2 separate regions of the Homo sapiens genome follow, and region 1 is linked to region 2. The links come from fine-mapping of genetic effects on gene expression. Tissue or cell type: whole blood. Region 2 holds a variant in brackets; the other region holds the start of a gene. All regions are shown on one strand. Distances are between the middles of the regions.

Evidence for each region. PIP is the estimated chance that this variant, and not a neighbour inherited with it, causes the effect.
Region 1: it holds the start of PXYLP1, and the variant in region 2 is fine-mapped to the expression of PXYLP1 in whole blood (INTERVAL, PIP above 0.99).

Annotation. Positions count from the first base shown.
Region 1 is chr3:141,228,342-141,236,521 of GRCh38, forward strand. PXYLP1 (2-phosphoxylose phosphatase 1) reads left to right here and starts at 3,484. Exons shown (of 6, transcript NM_001037172.3): 1 at 3,484-3,570. RefSeq lists a silencer at 3,223-3,602.
Region 2 is chr3:141,273,352-141,281,531 of GRCh38, forward strand. PXYLP1 (2-phosphoxylose phosphatase 1) reads left to right here. Exons shown (of 6, transcript NM_001037172.3): 3 at 4,991-5,149; 4 at 6,027-6,153. Among named protein-coding and RNA genes, the nearest start is that of PXYLP1, 46 kb to the left of the region's middle. RefSeq lists an enhancer at 475-644. The variant T/C (reference allele first, on the strand shown) is at 4,838.

The DNA.
Region 1 (8,180 bases), 45 kb before region 2:
AGAAACAAAACCCATGGTAAATGGAATTTTGAAATGAAATTTATTCTCTGGATACTGTGATGGGCACAGAAGAAAGGTTTAGTGTGGATGTATAAAATCTGTCATAAGTCAAGACTGCAGGCAGCACAGGCCTTTGGAACTTAGAACATGGTGCAAATAACCACTCCACCTCCATCCCCTAGAGGACTCCCTGGTATTGTCATCTGTCATCTCAGTCTCTGTCCTAGACTATTTGTCTTTCCCCATGGTAAAGTCCCTTTAAGTGTAGAGGCAGTAGCTCATTGTTTCTTTAAGTCTACAGTACGGGACAAAGGAGGCTGTGCAAATATTTGTACAATTTTTGCTCAAAGGCTTGAAAGTGAATTGAAGCTGGACACCTGCTCCCAGTTGCTTATAGTCTAGGAAGGGATCACTTGTGTAACATGGGAGCAAATGCTGCCTAGCGGAATATTCGTGACTTGGGTGAGTCTGGGACTATTTTTATAAGATGGGTGGGCTCTGCTTTTAATGAATGTTGAGGGTTTCCTTGGAGGTCAAGATGTGAATTTGGAAAGGACAAAGGAGCAGGCTGGGAATAAGAGGGGAGACAAAAGTTATTGAGCATACTGCATGCACTTTTCATTTCTACAGTTTACAGTTACCAAAGAGGATGGCTTGCTCATTTATCATATGAATAACGGTGATGATAGTTGCTATTTTACAGGAACTAATGTGTGAGGTCCTATGCTAGAGGCTTATACTAGTCAAGACTCTCTTGGTTGCAAGTGACAGAGAAAGCCAATTCTAATTTGCTTGGGGGAAAATGGGGTATTTACTGGAACACGTACTTGAAAAATCCAGTGGTATGTGGGATTCAGGCACAGCAGAAACCTGCCTATGACATCCATTCTGTTGTGAAGGTAAACAAAAAAGAAAGAAAGAAAGAAACCTGCCTATCTCACCACTCTGCTTTCCTCTGTCAGCTGCAGTCTCTGGCACAGTCTCCCCAGGTGCTGGCCAGATGGTCCCCAGCTGTGTCAGGCTGCCATCCTGCCTCTTCAGCAACCACGGAGGAAAGAGATTTAGTGGGAGTAATGGTCTTGAGATGCTTCCTCATATCTATTTTCCCTGTAGGAAGCTTTTCTTTTTTCTTCCCTATAGCCCCTTTCTCCATTAAGGCTCGGTGGGTACCACTCAGAACCCAGAGTCCACAGGGGGAGGAGATGCCTCCTCTAGAATGGAAGGTAGCATAGACATCCTCAGGGAATCGGGAAGGTGAGGTAAAGAAACAGGATGTGAGTCTAGGGAGTGTATGATGCCTGATTCCATGAGGGCCTGAGGCTATCCCTATACCAAGTGTGGACCTAGGGAAGGGGGTGGTACAAAGACACAGATCTCAGATAGGTTAAGGAGGAAGCTGAAAGCAGAAAGGGCCTGTGTCCTATCTCCAGGCTGAGACTCTGCCCCCACAGTATGCCCTGCGCTGTCAAGCAAAGCGCTGGTGTGGCAAATTTTGCAGAGAAATGGCTAGAGATGGTGCCCTGAGTTACCTTTAGTCCCCTTGTGACAGAGAAGGGATCCAAGAGTGCCTACATGCTCCCTGCTGAGGGTGATAGTGTGTCCACGAGTGAACCCACCTGCCATGGAGTCACAGAGGCTGAGAGCACAGCATGGACATGTGGCCCAATCCTGCAAACAAAGCCAGGTCCAAGGCTAGTTGCAATGGCTGGCAGAGAAGCTGATTTTCTGCTAGAACTAGAGCTGTGAGGCTGTGAGCCTGGATCTGCCAGGGTCTCATGTGCGCATGAAAGCGTAGTTCATGTGGAAGACAGCAAAACTGAGACGGGGAGTCCCTGAGACCCTGGGACTAAAGCCAGGCCTGAAGCAGACAGGCTCTTCATGTACACAGCGGATCAACCCTTTGTGATTTAAGTTAGTGTGAATTGGGTTGTCTTTTACAGCAGAAAGCACCTTGACTAACCCATGTAGAGAAGAGGGTGACAGTGTGAGCTAAGCAGTAGAGCCTGCAATCCGTGAGAGGACAATCAGAAGGGGCAGAGGAGACATTGTTGGGCGGGCTGCGGTGGGCTTCTGTGGGGGCCAGGTGGGAGAGTTGGGGGTGATGCCAAAGGGGACAGTGAAAAGATTTTGTGCTCATGGATTGGGAGAGGCTGTCAGTATTCAGGGCAGAAAAAAGGCCCGGGATAGCGCTGCATCGGGGGAATACCAGAGGCGGACAGGCAGCAAAGTCCGGTACTGACGAGCCATTAAGGCACCTGATGAAGAAGGCATGACAGGTGGCTGAGAGAATGGCGAGACCACGGGGATAAATGGAGTTGGGAGCTTGGAAGAGGTAAAATTTAGTGCCAGACGTGGTAACTTGAGGAGGAAAGTTCTAAGAAAAAAACCGGAGGGTAGGGGGAAATATGGCTAACATATCTGAGCCAAGTGTGTGGATTTGAGAGCCATCAATCAAGGAGAGAAAGCAGAAGTCAAGGGATGAGATCCTCCCAAAGGTGCACCTCAAAGGTATATAGTAGCAAATTCGAATCCGTATCTATTTTGCCTGAGGCTAGTTGTGCTAGGACACACAGGGTTGCTGTAGACCTCGAGCTGACAGCAAAGACCTCTCTGATAATCGCTGTTGGTCGTTTCATCTCCCACAGAGAAATCTGGTGGAAATCTCCACCAGCTGGAACCTAACATTTGCAATAAATGACCCACAAATACTGATCAAACCAAATACAACCGTTCGCCTATCAGATGTCTAACGGGGCGTTACAGGCAGCCCTCAAGTGCTCTGAGGATCTTCAGCAGCGGCTCCAAGGAAGCCGCGGGCCGGGAGCAGGTGGGAAGGGCGACTGCGCGGGGCCACGACCTCCCCGGGTCTCTGCAGACCGTTGGAGACGGAGCAGCAGCGAGGACTAGAGCAACACAAGGCCGGATGTGTTCTGAGCCGGAAGAGGAGTGTGGGATAGGCCGAAAGGGGTGGGGGGTGGGGGGTGACAGTTTGGGTCTACGTGGCAGCAGGCGCACCCCAGACGCGCGCGCCCACCCGGCGATAGCATCAGCGGCGCCAGGGCAGGCACATGGCCCCAAAGCACCCACACTAGGGCCCGGGCCGGCCAGGGCTGTGTTCCTGGGCCTTGGCGCGCCTCCGCGCAGTCCCTGATCGCAGGTCAGGAGTTGTGAGGCACGCGAGAGCCCTGCGCGTCTGTGGTCGTGGTCCCTGCGCGCTCGGCTTGTCCGTGCCCGTGGCTTTGCACGCCGAGGGCTCTGCAGACTGACCAGTCTCTCCGGGCTGTGCTGGGCCTCCCAGAGGCAGTGTCCTCTCAGCAACCCCGCGCGGTCGCCCCCGCCCAGCCGCACCGCAACACCGCCTCCGGGGCGGAGCTCCAGGGCTCCTGGTGCAGGGCCGGCCGAACTGAGACGGGGCGCGGCGGGGTCGGCAGGGGGCGCTGCCGGGCCCCGCGAGCTCCCCGGTGGCGGGTGCGCGCCGCCCTCGCCTCCCCTCGCGCCGGGAGGAGCTGGCGGCGAGCGCCGAGCCGGGCGCGCAGCGACGGAGCTGGGGCCGGCCTGGGACCATGGGCGGTGAGTGCGGCGCGGGCCTGGGCCGGGGCGGTTGCCGTTGGGGCCGAGCAGCGCAGAGGTTCTAGGCGGGTGGGCGTCCAGGGTCCGAGGTTGGGAGACTGAGGGGGTCCCCCTAACTCGCCAGTGGGAGAGGGGCGGGAAGGCTGGGGGCGCTTCGAAGCGTCGGGTCCGAATCCCGCGACTAAGCCTCCTCCTTTATCCCCGCGCTCGCCCCTGAGCCTAGGACTTGCGCCCTCTTTCCTGCCACTCCCCCCGTGCGCCCGGTGTCCCAGCCCCGGCGCCCGCCCCATAGCCCCCTTCTCCCAGAGCTGGCGCCGTCTCACGCCCGCTGCGAACCCCCGGCTCTGTCTCCAAGCCCTCGCCCCCCGCAGCCCCGCACTCTCCCGCGGAGCCCGCCTCCACCTCGCCCCCGCCCTTCCAGCCCTCTCCCGCACGGCCCCCGCACTCCCGCCGCTGGATTCCAGCCGAGATTCAAGCTCCCGGGATCCCCCTTCCCGGGCGGTCCTGAGCCGGCTAGTCTCCAGGTAAGGAGGCGGCCGCAACTTCGCGGCCTTTCCCGGAGACGGGGCTGGCTCCTCTTGGCAGCCACCTGCAGCCTGACGCCTCCGGGAGTCCCGGGCCTGGCCACGGGGCCGCCCGAGCGCAGGTTAACATTCCTGGATGCGCAGGTTAGGACCGTGTGGTGTAGACCCACGACGTTGCTTTTGCTGGTGAACTTGCCTATGTCCTGATCTTTTAAATAAGCTGGGTTTGTCACACACACACACACAGAGAGAGAGAGAATGGATTTGCTTAGGGTAGGTTGCCTGCTTTGCAGCCGCAGCTGCCTTTTAAATTGTACCTGTGGATGGTAAAGGATTCACGGTGCAGGACGTGGAGCCATATTTTCCCGCTTCGGCTGTGAGTTCAGCGATTGCGAGGGGGCTCTGTAGTGAGTGAGGTTATCACCGCCTGGCTAGCCAGTGTCTTTGTGGAAAGGCAAGGATCCTTTGTAAGCATTCAACAAGTAAAATCAGGAGAGATGGGGAATCAGATCGAGCTGTGAATGGGGAAGTGTAGGGGGGTGGATGGGGGATCGGAGAGTGCTCCACAAATGGAGCCGTTTGTTGATATTTGCAGAAGGCCCGTGGGTGTGAAGCTGGCAGTGCGGAGCCCACCCTTTCAAACGGGATGCGACTGCGGTCGGGCTTGGCAGTAACTTACCCTCCTCAGAGGTGTTGGTGCCCAATCGGGACATCTGTGGGAAGGGGATTTATAGCAGATGGATCAAAAGGCCTCGGGCGCGGTGGCTCACGCCTGTAATCCCAGCACTTTGGGAGGCCGAGGCGGGCGGATCACCAGAGGTCGGGAGTTCGAGACTAGCCTGACCAACATAAAAACCCCGTCTCTACTAAAAATACAAAATTAGCCAGGCGTGGTGGTGCATACCTGTAATCCCAGCTACTCAGGAGGCTGAGACAGGAGAATCGCTTGCACCTGGGAGGCAGAGGTTGCAGTGAGCTGAGATTGCGCCATTGCACTCCAGCTTGGGCAATAAGAGCAAAACCCTGTCAAAAAAAAAAAAAAAAAAAAAACCCTCGTGGTCCCTGGAGAGAGGTGAAGATGCACGGGACAGCCTGAAAGCCAGTGTATGAATCTGCCCCATCCCTTCTCCTGGCTTTCATTAAGTCTTGGATTAAATTAATTGCTTATCTCAGAGAAAGGATGTGTAGGGGGAACTTCTCTGTTAGGGATTGGCTCCTGGCCAGCCCATCCTCACTGATGCCTTGGGAGGCTGCGTTTGGGCACCAGGAACAGCGTGGGCCACCTGGCCTTTGGAGCACAGCACTCCGAGTGTTTGTGGAACTGCAGTATCTGTAACTCTTTTTTCTATTGATCAGCTTGAATAGTTAGCTCAATATTACTTCACTATTGATTAGATAAGTAGCCCAAGGACATACTGGGGCTCAGTAGGGTCTCTCTGTCCAGAAATTCCCGTGGGCTTCTCCTTGGCCCTCCCTACACCGCTCTGTGATGAGTCGCTGTCAGATGCCCCACTGTGCAGGAGCATCTTCAGGGATGGGTGGAAGGAACCACCTCTGTGGCCCCAGGTCCCTGCCTGGTCCCCCCTGTCTACCACATAGGGGTACTCAGTGTTTGTGAGGAAAAAAAATGGATGCCCCGGTGAATTAGTCTGAGTTCACAACCAATGTTTTCTACACTTTGCTACACTGTTCAAAATGTTACCCTTAAATTCAACAGTTTTTTTTTTTTAATGTGTCATATCACCAGAGACAAACTCATTTTTGTGTGTGTTTGGAGCAGTGAGTGCAATCTACGGATCAGTCTCTGATGGTGGGTCGTTAACCTCAGTGGGGACTCCAAGATTTCCATGAAGAAAATCAGTTGTCTTCATTCAAGAATTGGGGTAGGTGGTGGTGGGCGCCCTTGGAAGCTACTAAGTTTGTCTGCTGAGGGTTGAGTCCACCATAGCTTAACCTATAGTGCCCAGAGCTGTAGCCCCAGTCCCCTTTAACATTTCCTATCCCTGCCCACTGACGGAGGAAGCTCCCAGGGAGACAGGGTACCACTTGCAGAGCCCCACTGGCCACTTCAGATTGCACCATCCCCACTCCAGTGGGTGTTGCTTCCTGTGGCGAGCTGGGAGTGCCTCTTCTTGCACATTTCTGGCACTGTGGCTTGCAGCTCTATTGGTGGGAGGGAGGTTGGTGTTTTGGGCCAGTGCTTTGGTCTCTTGGAGGTGGCTATAACCCACTGGCAGATGGGGCAAGGTCCAGCTCTTGTGCCTCTGTCAAAGGCCACCCCCAGGCAGTACAGCCAAATGCTGAGGGGGTGGGAACACCTCATGTCCCCCTTTTTTTGTGGGGGAATCTGGAAAGGGCTAAAATTGAGACTGCCACTTGGCTGTGGGAGCCTGCACTGCCCCTGGCTGTCACGAACTTATCTTTCTTACCCAGATTGTCTCTGTCTTCAGGTCTGGCTCAGAATTCCTGCAGCTGGTGAAAATCTGTTTTCTAGAAGAGGTTTAATTAATGCCTGCAGTCTGTGAGTAAGAGAAAGGGAGGAGAGGGAGAAAGAGACATACTACTATCTAGAGGTGGGTGGGAGAAAGGATAGGAGAATGTTCAAGGTCCTGAAAATTCATAGGGGGAGATTTTGGCCCCAGAACCTGTCCCTGGACAAGGTTCCTGGTTGGTGGATAAGGAAGTGTGCCCACATTCCAGTGTAGGGGTTACCAGTTAGGAGCAAAGTCACTGAGATAGGAAAAATGACCCCATGGGAATCTGAAATCCATTTGCTGGGCCCATCATTCTGGTTTTGAGAAGGCCTTGAAAGCCAGCTGAGACTTGGGCTTAGCACGGCAGGAGAGCACTGAGCTGTTTGAAGTTTTTGAATGAGGTGTGTGCCCTTTTGGAAATAATGGCTTGAGCAAGATTGGTCTGGGGTTTGGCCTGGGAAGCCACTTTACCATGGCTTAATTTATAGGCCCTGAGCTGTAGCCCCAGTCCCCTTTGACATCACCCATTTTCCAATGGAGGAAGCTTCCAGGGAGACAGGGTACCACTTGGAGAGCCCCCATGGCCACTTCAGATTGCAGCCATTGCCACTTCATCTCACCTGAGGTGCTGAGGGGAGAGTCTAGGTAAGTGACAAAAGGAGCAGTGGCTTGGAAGGTCTGTGCACCTGTATTTAGGAGGTGAAGAAGAGGGAGCAGCTTTCTAGTAGGATGGTGGGCCTTTTGATAGAAGCATCTCCCAGGGACTCTTTTTGAACCTGCTGTGCAGCCTTGCAGGTAAACGACGGCCCATTGGAGCCTCTCAACCTGGAGATGCTGCATGGCAGCCACGAGGAGGCACCCGTGAACCCAGAATGAATTTCAGGGTCCGCTCTGAGTCCAAAAGGCAGGAGGGCCCTGGCCAACTAACACCTAACTGAGCCACAGACTCTGGCCTGTTTATCCTCCACCCTCAAAACCAGCAGGCTTCTCTGACCCTTTTTGGACTTTGGCTGGGGAAGCCACTGGCTTTTGGAAAAAGTTCAGTCTGCAGTGATGGCGGGAACAATCTCAGGAGTCTGGAAGAAGTTAATGATTAAAAAGGCATGGAAGAAGAACTGGATGGCGGCTTGGGGAGTAGTTTCTGCAGTCAGGAGGCACCCTTCACCTCATTCCCTTGGCCCACAGTCATCTGTGCATGCGTCTGCCCCTCCCTCCATCAGTGGAGCTCCCTCTGAGCTGCGTACTCGAGGGTGGAGGAGAGTTTGGGGGAACTCAAACATGTGGTAGTAGAGACTGTAGTAACTTTAAAATTCTCTTTGTATTTGCAGAATCATTTCCCCAATTTACACACTCATGTTTCAGTTTACAGGGCATCCTTTTGTCACCTGCTCGCCACCCTTATGCCCCTGGGTGTGACCAGCTTCCTCAGAAAGAGCTGTAATCAATAGCATATTGATTAAAAAGCATATTAAGATGAAAATTATTGCACCTGGTTTTGATGCCCCCACTCTCTCCCCTTTCCTCCTCCACTTCTGTTTGTGGTTACAGCCATCATTTACATTAAAGTTACAAATCATTTTGAATACTATTTGTCCCACCCCTCAGTTATTCA
Region 2 (8,180 bases):
GTCTACTGTCTGGCTGATGGTTACTCTTCCTAGGTTGAGATCCAAAGCTGGGAAAAGCAGAGAGAGGATCAGTTTGGCTTGCATCCTAGCTATAGCTATGGGAATGTTTACTAGTAATACATACAGAGTCATCCACTGTGCATTCGGGAGATGGGGTGGGGAAGGGTGGTGGGGAGGGAGCCTGCGTGGGATAGCATCTGGTTGTTTTACTCATGATTCTAAGAAATTTGTTGGTTGCTTTTGAGAGGGAGGGTCCCAAGGAGATGCTTTAGAGGTCATGTTCTCTGCCATTTCTTTGAAATTGAGACCTTGTCGGCATCTTTACACATGAGGGTTATAGATGTGTGGACAGGATGAAAGTGATCGTAGATGAGATGAGCAGAGAACACCGCCATAAAAGAGAGGCTTATTTCCAAAGGTAGCTTACGGAAATTTGCCCTCCTACTTGGTAATCACACCACAGAGAAATTGCATGCCCGTTGGTACAGAGTTAATCATCAGTAAAAGATATCTCGTATCCTGTTATTCGTGTTGGTCCTGGTGGCACAGTGGCCCCAGGACACTCATTTAGATTCATGGGTTTTCCCACCTACATAATGAAACTCGTTATCCTTCCATCTATTTATCTGCCCACTATTCTTTCTGATGCCCCCACAGCCTCTTTCTCTTGCCCTGTGACATCTGAGCTGCTGTCATCTGCCTGAGGTCAGCAGAGTTTCTAATTGTTCCACAGGACAGCTAGAGGCACGGGGGGCCTGGGCAAAGCCTGCTGGGAGGAGCAGTGTCCTGGAGCAGTGTCTGCCCCCAGCCCCTGGGTCTGTCCCTCAGCTCCCTTTATCTAGGTGATCGGGGCAAGCCTCAAGAGCTGATGTGGTGAGTAGCACAGCACCAGGGCAGAGGCGGCCTGCAGCCCGGGGTCTGCTCCTCCAGGCCCCTTCCCAGCCTTCCTCCTGGAGCCCGGCCTGCACATCGACCCTGGTGAGGCCAACCTGACCAGGCCTTACGGGACCCAAGGCGTATCCTGAGCCAGCTTGCTGACCCCCATCTGCCATGTTTGGCTGTGTTTCACGGCCTCCCCTCTGCTCCTCTCCTCTTCCCCTCCACACAGCCAGCTTCATCAGTTTTTCAGGCCCAGCTAGGTGTCTCCTCTGGGAAGCCTGTTTGGATGCCCCTCACCCCAGACTGGTTCGGCAACCCTCAGTGCTCCACATGAGGAGTCAATGAGATATTTCATCAAAAGCATGGAGCACAGCGTCTGCCCCAGTTCAGCAGGTATTTTTGGAAGACCTATCCTCTGTCAGTCAGCGGGGGATATAAATGTGAAAGACGCACACTCCCAGCCCTCTGGATGTTTGGGATGGCAGGGTGACAAACTGGGACACCCCTGCTTGCATATACTATGCTGTGAGCCATGACGGCAGCAGGAACTGGGTAGGCTCATAGAAGAGGATGTGGGAACTGGGGATTCAGGGCGGGCTTCCTGGAGGAGGTGACCCTAGGATCAGTTACAGTGTTGGTCAGATTTCGGGAGCAGAGGGTGAGAGTAGAGTTGCCAGCAAACGGTGGAGCATAGGCGAGAAACATCCTGTGGGGTGGGATGGCTCAGAGCAGCTCAGAACAGTGAGAACCAAGTTGGGATTGGGGTCAAGATGGAGCTGGGGAGACTTCTCCTCACAGCTTCTATGTGTCAGGACCTGTTTTGAATGCCTGGTATTGGGAAGGCCCCTTGTGAACTGATGCTATGTCCTGGTGACTCAGGGAGGTACAAATAGTACAGGGTGATCTCACACTCTGAACTAGTAGACACAGTTGACAGGCCCAGATACCAGAGGAAGCAGCAGATAAAATCTTTCTGGAGAGAAGGTCTCATTCTGATCTTTATCTGTGGTTTTCAAACCACTGCTTCCTTGGGTCATGGGTGGGTCATTTGCACCCAACCACCATGGTTCCCAAATGGCAGCCACAACAGGCCTCACCCCGGGTGCTTATAGATGAACTAGCAAACTGTGGGCACTCTAGGACACCCACTGTCCTCACCTGTGCCCCTCCATTTCTGTGTCACTCATATTATCCTGTCTCCTTAGCTGCTTCTGTCCCTGGCCCAGACTCCAAGGGAGTGTGCCCACAGGCATGGCCAAGGGGCCAGGACTTGGTAGATTTCACAAAAGAGCAGAATCAAGGACTGAGCCAGCCAGAAGGGCCAGGTCACTAAGAGACTGCCTTAGCACTTTTCTATATTTCCGTGCTCTTGTGCTAATCCCCCTGTAGTGAATTCCCTCTGAACACCTGGGCTGTGTTAGCCATCCTAGCACCTTCCAACTACTGGAAAGAAAGTGGCCCTAGGAGCAACCAAAGGGCTAATGTTGGGTGGGTGAATCACCAGTTCTGTATCTCTGTGATTGTTGTTTTGGTAACACAAGTAATGAAGGGAAATACGTTCACTGTAAAAAAAAAAAAAATGCTTACCTAGACAGCATAGAAATACAGAAATATATATTTCTATACATATAGAATACATTAATATGTGCTTACTATAAATACATATGCAGTCATGTACCACATAATGACTTCCATCAACGACAGAACACATATATGACAGTGGTGCCATATTATAATACCATATTTTTACTGTATTCTTTCTAAGTCGAGATATGTTTAGATACACAAGTACTTACCATTGTGTTACAACTGCTTACAACATTCAGTGCGGTAACATGCAGTTCAGGTTTGTAGCCTAGGAGCGGCAGGCTGACCAAATAGCCTAGGTGTGTAGAAAGCTCTACCATCTAGGTTTGTGTAAGTGCACTCTATGATGTTTACACTATGACAAAATTGCCTAAGGGCCATCTCTCAGTGCCTCCCCATTGTTACGCAACTCATGACTGTACGTATATGTGTGTGCGAATATACAAACAAGTAAAAATACTTTTTCACACCCCATTCCATCCTTTCCCAGAGGAAAACCACTGCTGTGTTATGATGGATAACCTTCTAGACATTTTTTCTATGCATTTACGTAATAAACAAATCCCTGTATATTTATGCATTTATGGTTTGTTTTTTTTCTTTACACAAAGAGGATTATATCAGTATACAGTGACTTGGTGTATTCACTTCACTTAATTTATCTTTGATTCTTTTCCCTTCTTTTTAACTGGGATAGAACATTCCACAGTAGGGACATAACGTTCTGTTCTGCTAGAGATGGATATTTAGGTTATTTCCCTTTTTTGTTATTACAAACAGCACTGCAGGGAATCTCTTTGGCCACACATTTTTGTGCGTGGGCATCGCTATCTTTATAGATACAGAATGGATTCCAAGACGTAGAATAACGAGATCGGGGGTAGTGCACATATACCATTTTGATGGCTACTGCCAAACACTCCCGAGAGGTGCCGGTTTCCACCCTCCCCATGATGTTTGGAAGCGTCAGGTTTCTCACACCCTTCCCAATATTGAGTGTTATCATTAAAACATGATTTTCCAGTTTGATGAGGAAAAATTATTAATATAGTCCACTGTTTGATTTATATTTCTTTAATTATGAATAAACAATTATGAAAAACAGTATCACACTGTTGTTTTATCTGTATCTAATTATGAACAAACTTAAGCATCTCTTCATGTGTTTATTGGCCATTGGTATTTATTTTTCTGCGATTAGCCTGTTCATATCCTTTAATGATTTTTCAGGTGTAGGGTCTCTTATGGACTTTGGATATTAATCATTTGTCTGTTAGGTTAGTTGCAAATATTTTTCTCTCAGTGTGTTGCCTTTTATCTTTGTTTATGGCATCTGTTTGCCAAAGGGAAGTTTTAAATATTTATGTAGAAGAATTTGTAGAAGTAATTAGGGAATTTACATTGATTTAGGCTGGTGGTTGGTCCCTGTTTTAGCTATTGTTCGTGCGCATGTGTAGATATTATGGTGATTAATAAATCTTTTAGAAGTTAAAAAGATCTGTGAGCACACTTATTTTCATGTGTTTCCCTCAAAGGGCGGATGCTGAAAGTATGACTATACTGTGTTGGGAGTTCTAGAGGATCTATGATGCTACAAAGACATTCCCTAGGCACGGAGAGATTAGGGACCACTGAGACAGAAGCTGTTCATGAGGGATAGATGGCTGGGCAGCCCCACATTTCCATTCTTACAGATTAGCATCCGAAAGAAAAAGAGCACCTCTTCTAGAGTCTGTATATCACCTGTCTCGAGGAAAGGGAGTCCAGTTGCCCCATTACTACCCTTATTGACTCTGGTCACATGTCCACCCCTGCCAGGGGGTGGGGACACTGTGATTGACAGTCCAGCCTGACCACACGTGGTGGTGAAGGGTCAGCTCACTAATGGAATGAGGGTAGTAGATGGACAAGCACACAGATTGCAAGACCCACACATGCCACGCCGAAGACAGTGGCAGGGAAGCTGGCCTGAAGTCAAGGAGTAAGCGTGAGACAGGCTTTCACCCACCACACATGCCTTGGTCCTTGGCTTTCTTCTGTAAAGTGCTCTCATGGGTTAGATGAGCGACTCTGAAGGCCCACAAAGCATAAAGCAGATGATGATAAATGGGATATGTCAGACACCCACATCTGGCACCTAGCAGGTCTTCAATGAGGAATGATGGTTTTCCTCCTTCTTGTTGTTACTGGAATTAAAGGGCATTAGGAAGAGGTAATCAGGTCCTAAGAAGTTAGTGTGTGAGTTCTTCCTCCAACTGCCCTGAGAGAGGCCCCTTTGCTTGGGAGGCTCCCCTGGTGTTGAATAGATGATAAGGAGAGGGTAGTGGCAGTGACGAAGGGGCAGGACACAGTGGGGCTCAGAAGCCCTTCT[T/C]GAATGGGAAGCTGACTTCTGCTCCACTGAAGTGCACCTTGATTCTCAGTGTAAGAATAGCTCCTCAAAGTGAAATCCAGCCCTGCGCTGGGCCTTGCAGCTGGCCTGGCGCCCCAGGAACTGTGCGTCACAACCTGCCTTACTTCGTTTCAGTCCACCTGATCCCGGTGTCGACTCCTAAGAATGGAATGAGTAGCAAGAGTCGAAAGAGAATCATGCCCGACCCTGTGACGGAGCCCCCTGTGACAGACCCCGTTTATGAAGCTCTTTTGTACTGCAACATCCCCAGCGTGGCCGAGCGCAGCATGGAAGGTAGGCCTGACTGTGCCACCAGGACAGATACCCCTTTGGGGACTAGTTATTCCAGCAGCATTGCACAGCAGTAAGGAGCAAGATGGCCAGGACCCAAGTCCTGCAGTTGCCACCAGGCTGTGCCCTTGAATGAGTTCCTGGGTCCTTGCATTCTCCTCTATAAAATGGGAGTAACTCACAGGACTTATGCCTGGGACTGGGGAGGTTTCAGTAACTGCTCTGAACATACCACGTGGCTCACGATCAACCCACCACAAATGTTTGCCATCATCATGATCTTTAGTGAGACAGCAGCAAGGTAGAAAGGTGGCCTTGGCAGGCACTAGTGCAGCACATTGAGACACTCTGCTTTTCAGGGTAGCCTCTTGGGACTCAGGATGTCCACAGGATGTCCTGCTGGCGTCTTGCCATAGAAGTGAGGCAATTTCTACAAGTTTTGCTTTTGTAAAAGTGTATCAGAGCATAGTGTTGAATCCTTATTGATCTCTTTATGCCTTCTCTGGTCTCATGAAAGATTTAAAGCAGAAATCATTGTTTCTAGTATTTCCGTGGCTCTCTCCCTGGTCTGTGCATGTGAGTGAGGCCACATTAGTAGTCATGCCCGCATTTCACCAGCCTCCCGTTGTTTCCAGGAGGTCTGGGACATAATCAGCCTACTCATGTTCCTCTGTCCCGCCTTGTAAGACTATTCAGTGGCCCCCATCCAGAATGGCAGCCAGGGCCCCTTCACTGTGGTGGCTCTGCAAACCCACGGTGGCCCCTGCTGCCTCCGGCTCAGATTCCCAGCCCAAATGTGGCCAGGTCATCCCCTTGGCCCCCTTCTAAAAGGATTGACACCTATTGAGTGATAACCAGACAATGTGCTTCTCTCGCGCAGGTCATGCCCCGCATCATTTTAAGCTGGTCTCAGTGCATGTGTTCATTCGCCACGGAGACAGGTACCCACTGTATGTCATTCCCAAAACAAAGCGACCAGAAATTGACTGCACTCTGGTGGCTAACAGGTAAATTGCACTTTTTCTAAAAGTCATTTTCAAGTGTCTGTTATATCCTGTAGGATAGAGAATGACAGGACCTACACTTGGTGAACCATACTGTTTGCAGGAGCCTGAGCTCAGAGCAGTCCTACATGTGAGTGCCATTATACAGTTGAAAAGATGGAGGCCCACAGAGGCGGGGACACCTGTTTGAAGCAACACAGCAGATATACTGAGCCCAGGCCAGTCTGAGGCTCACCCTCCCACCCTGATGTTTTTCACTTTAATAAACAGTTGGGACACAGTACAGTGAGCACTGAGTTAAGAGTCCTCCGCCCCAGCTCACCTGCTCCATTCAGAGCAGCGGGCAAGCCCCTTAGTGTCCTCTGAGCCTCAGCCTCCTACCTCTGAAACGGGGATCACAAGGCTCCCCATGCAAAGTTGGGGCAAAGAGTAAGTGAGATGACACAGACAAATGCACGTTAGCAATTGCAGAGCCATATAAATGTAAGAATTATTTCACCCTTCTAATTTTTCACTGGAGTAGAGGCAGCCTGTTCTTGGTTGAAAGCCCTTAGGATGAAAAATAATTGAACAGAGTGTGGAAATTGTATGGAAATGGCATGGCTCTAAAATTAGAGGCATAGTTAGCAATAAAATATTGGGCTAGACCTCAGCAAATGTGTCTGGAGGCACATAACATTCTAGCAGAGTTTAGTGAATGAGGTCAGGAGATGAAGTGCTCAGTGGGGAAGACGTTATTTTGATGGAATGCTTCTGGGATGCCAGCCTGCCCCGGGAGGGCGAGCCTGGTGGAGCCATGGATTACCTCACTACAGCCAGGGCTGTTCTTTAAAAGTGACACTTTGTAGCTCGTCTTGCAGGGCCCCTGTCACAGTGATGCCAGGACCCTCTAATGGGGCCATTTTTGGCGCTCCCATTTGAGAGGTTCAGTTCCTAGGGACCAGTTGGCCTGGCTGCCTCTGCCCTCATTTTCCTTTGCCTAGTTTTATTTTATTGAACATTCTGTATTTTTAGAAGCCACTTTAAATCCTTTGTGTGAAGAGGGTGGAGTATGCATAGTTACTTAATGTCATTTAATTAATTTAATCTTTAAAAACAGTAATAGTTGACTCATCATTATAAACAGGTACTTAAGAGTAAGAGTGAGCAGGAACCCCGGTGAAGGGGACCCTCTCTAGGCTGCTGACTCCCCCAGGACTGTGGGATCTGGGTCACGAGCAATACCTGCTGTCTTCCCAGGTGCTACTTCAGCTTTAAAAATTACTAATGTTGTGATCTCCTAAAAGGTGGTGTGCCCTGGAGCATGCCCATTATTCTAGTCTAGTGAAACGGAATACTGTGGCCAGCAGGCAGGGTGCAGTGAGCTGAACCAAGCACTAGCTGGCGGTCCACAAGTTTGTTGCCCCAGGGTTTCCATCCACGATGCCACACCCTGTGACTCTCAAAGCCTTTGTAGTAGAAGCTGCCTCTTTGTGAATGCCATGTGCTTTATAAGGAAGGTGCTATTTTAACCCTCATAGTATTACATTTAGCCAGCATTAAGGTTATTAGTTATTTATATGCCATATTTAGTAAATGCTTTTTTGCATTCATAAATATGAATTAAATATGCTTTTCTACATCCAAGGAGGAGAAAACATCCACTTTGATCAGCATTTATTGCACAAATTTTAGTTTTATGCTTCTATCATGTGCCAGGTACCAGAAGGCAGTACACAAGCAGGCACCTACATGAAGTGAAGGGGCCAGCCCTGTGATGGTCCGGGGACAGAGCGTTCCCTATGGAGTAAGCAGCAAGTGCAGGGGGCCCGAGGCTGAAAGAACTGGGCAGGTGTGAGCCACAATAAGACCAGGGTATGGCTGGGCTGGAGCAGTGATGGAGGGAGTAGGCTTCTGAGGAGTCGAAGAAGAAAGGCCGCTTGTTGGGGCTGCCTCTGCCCTCAGGGAGCTCAGCACATTTACAGAGACAGGCCCGGTGCCCAGGACACGGCAGCCCTCAGTGAATAGCTGGCACAGGTGGCAGCAGTGGT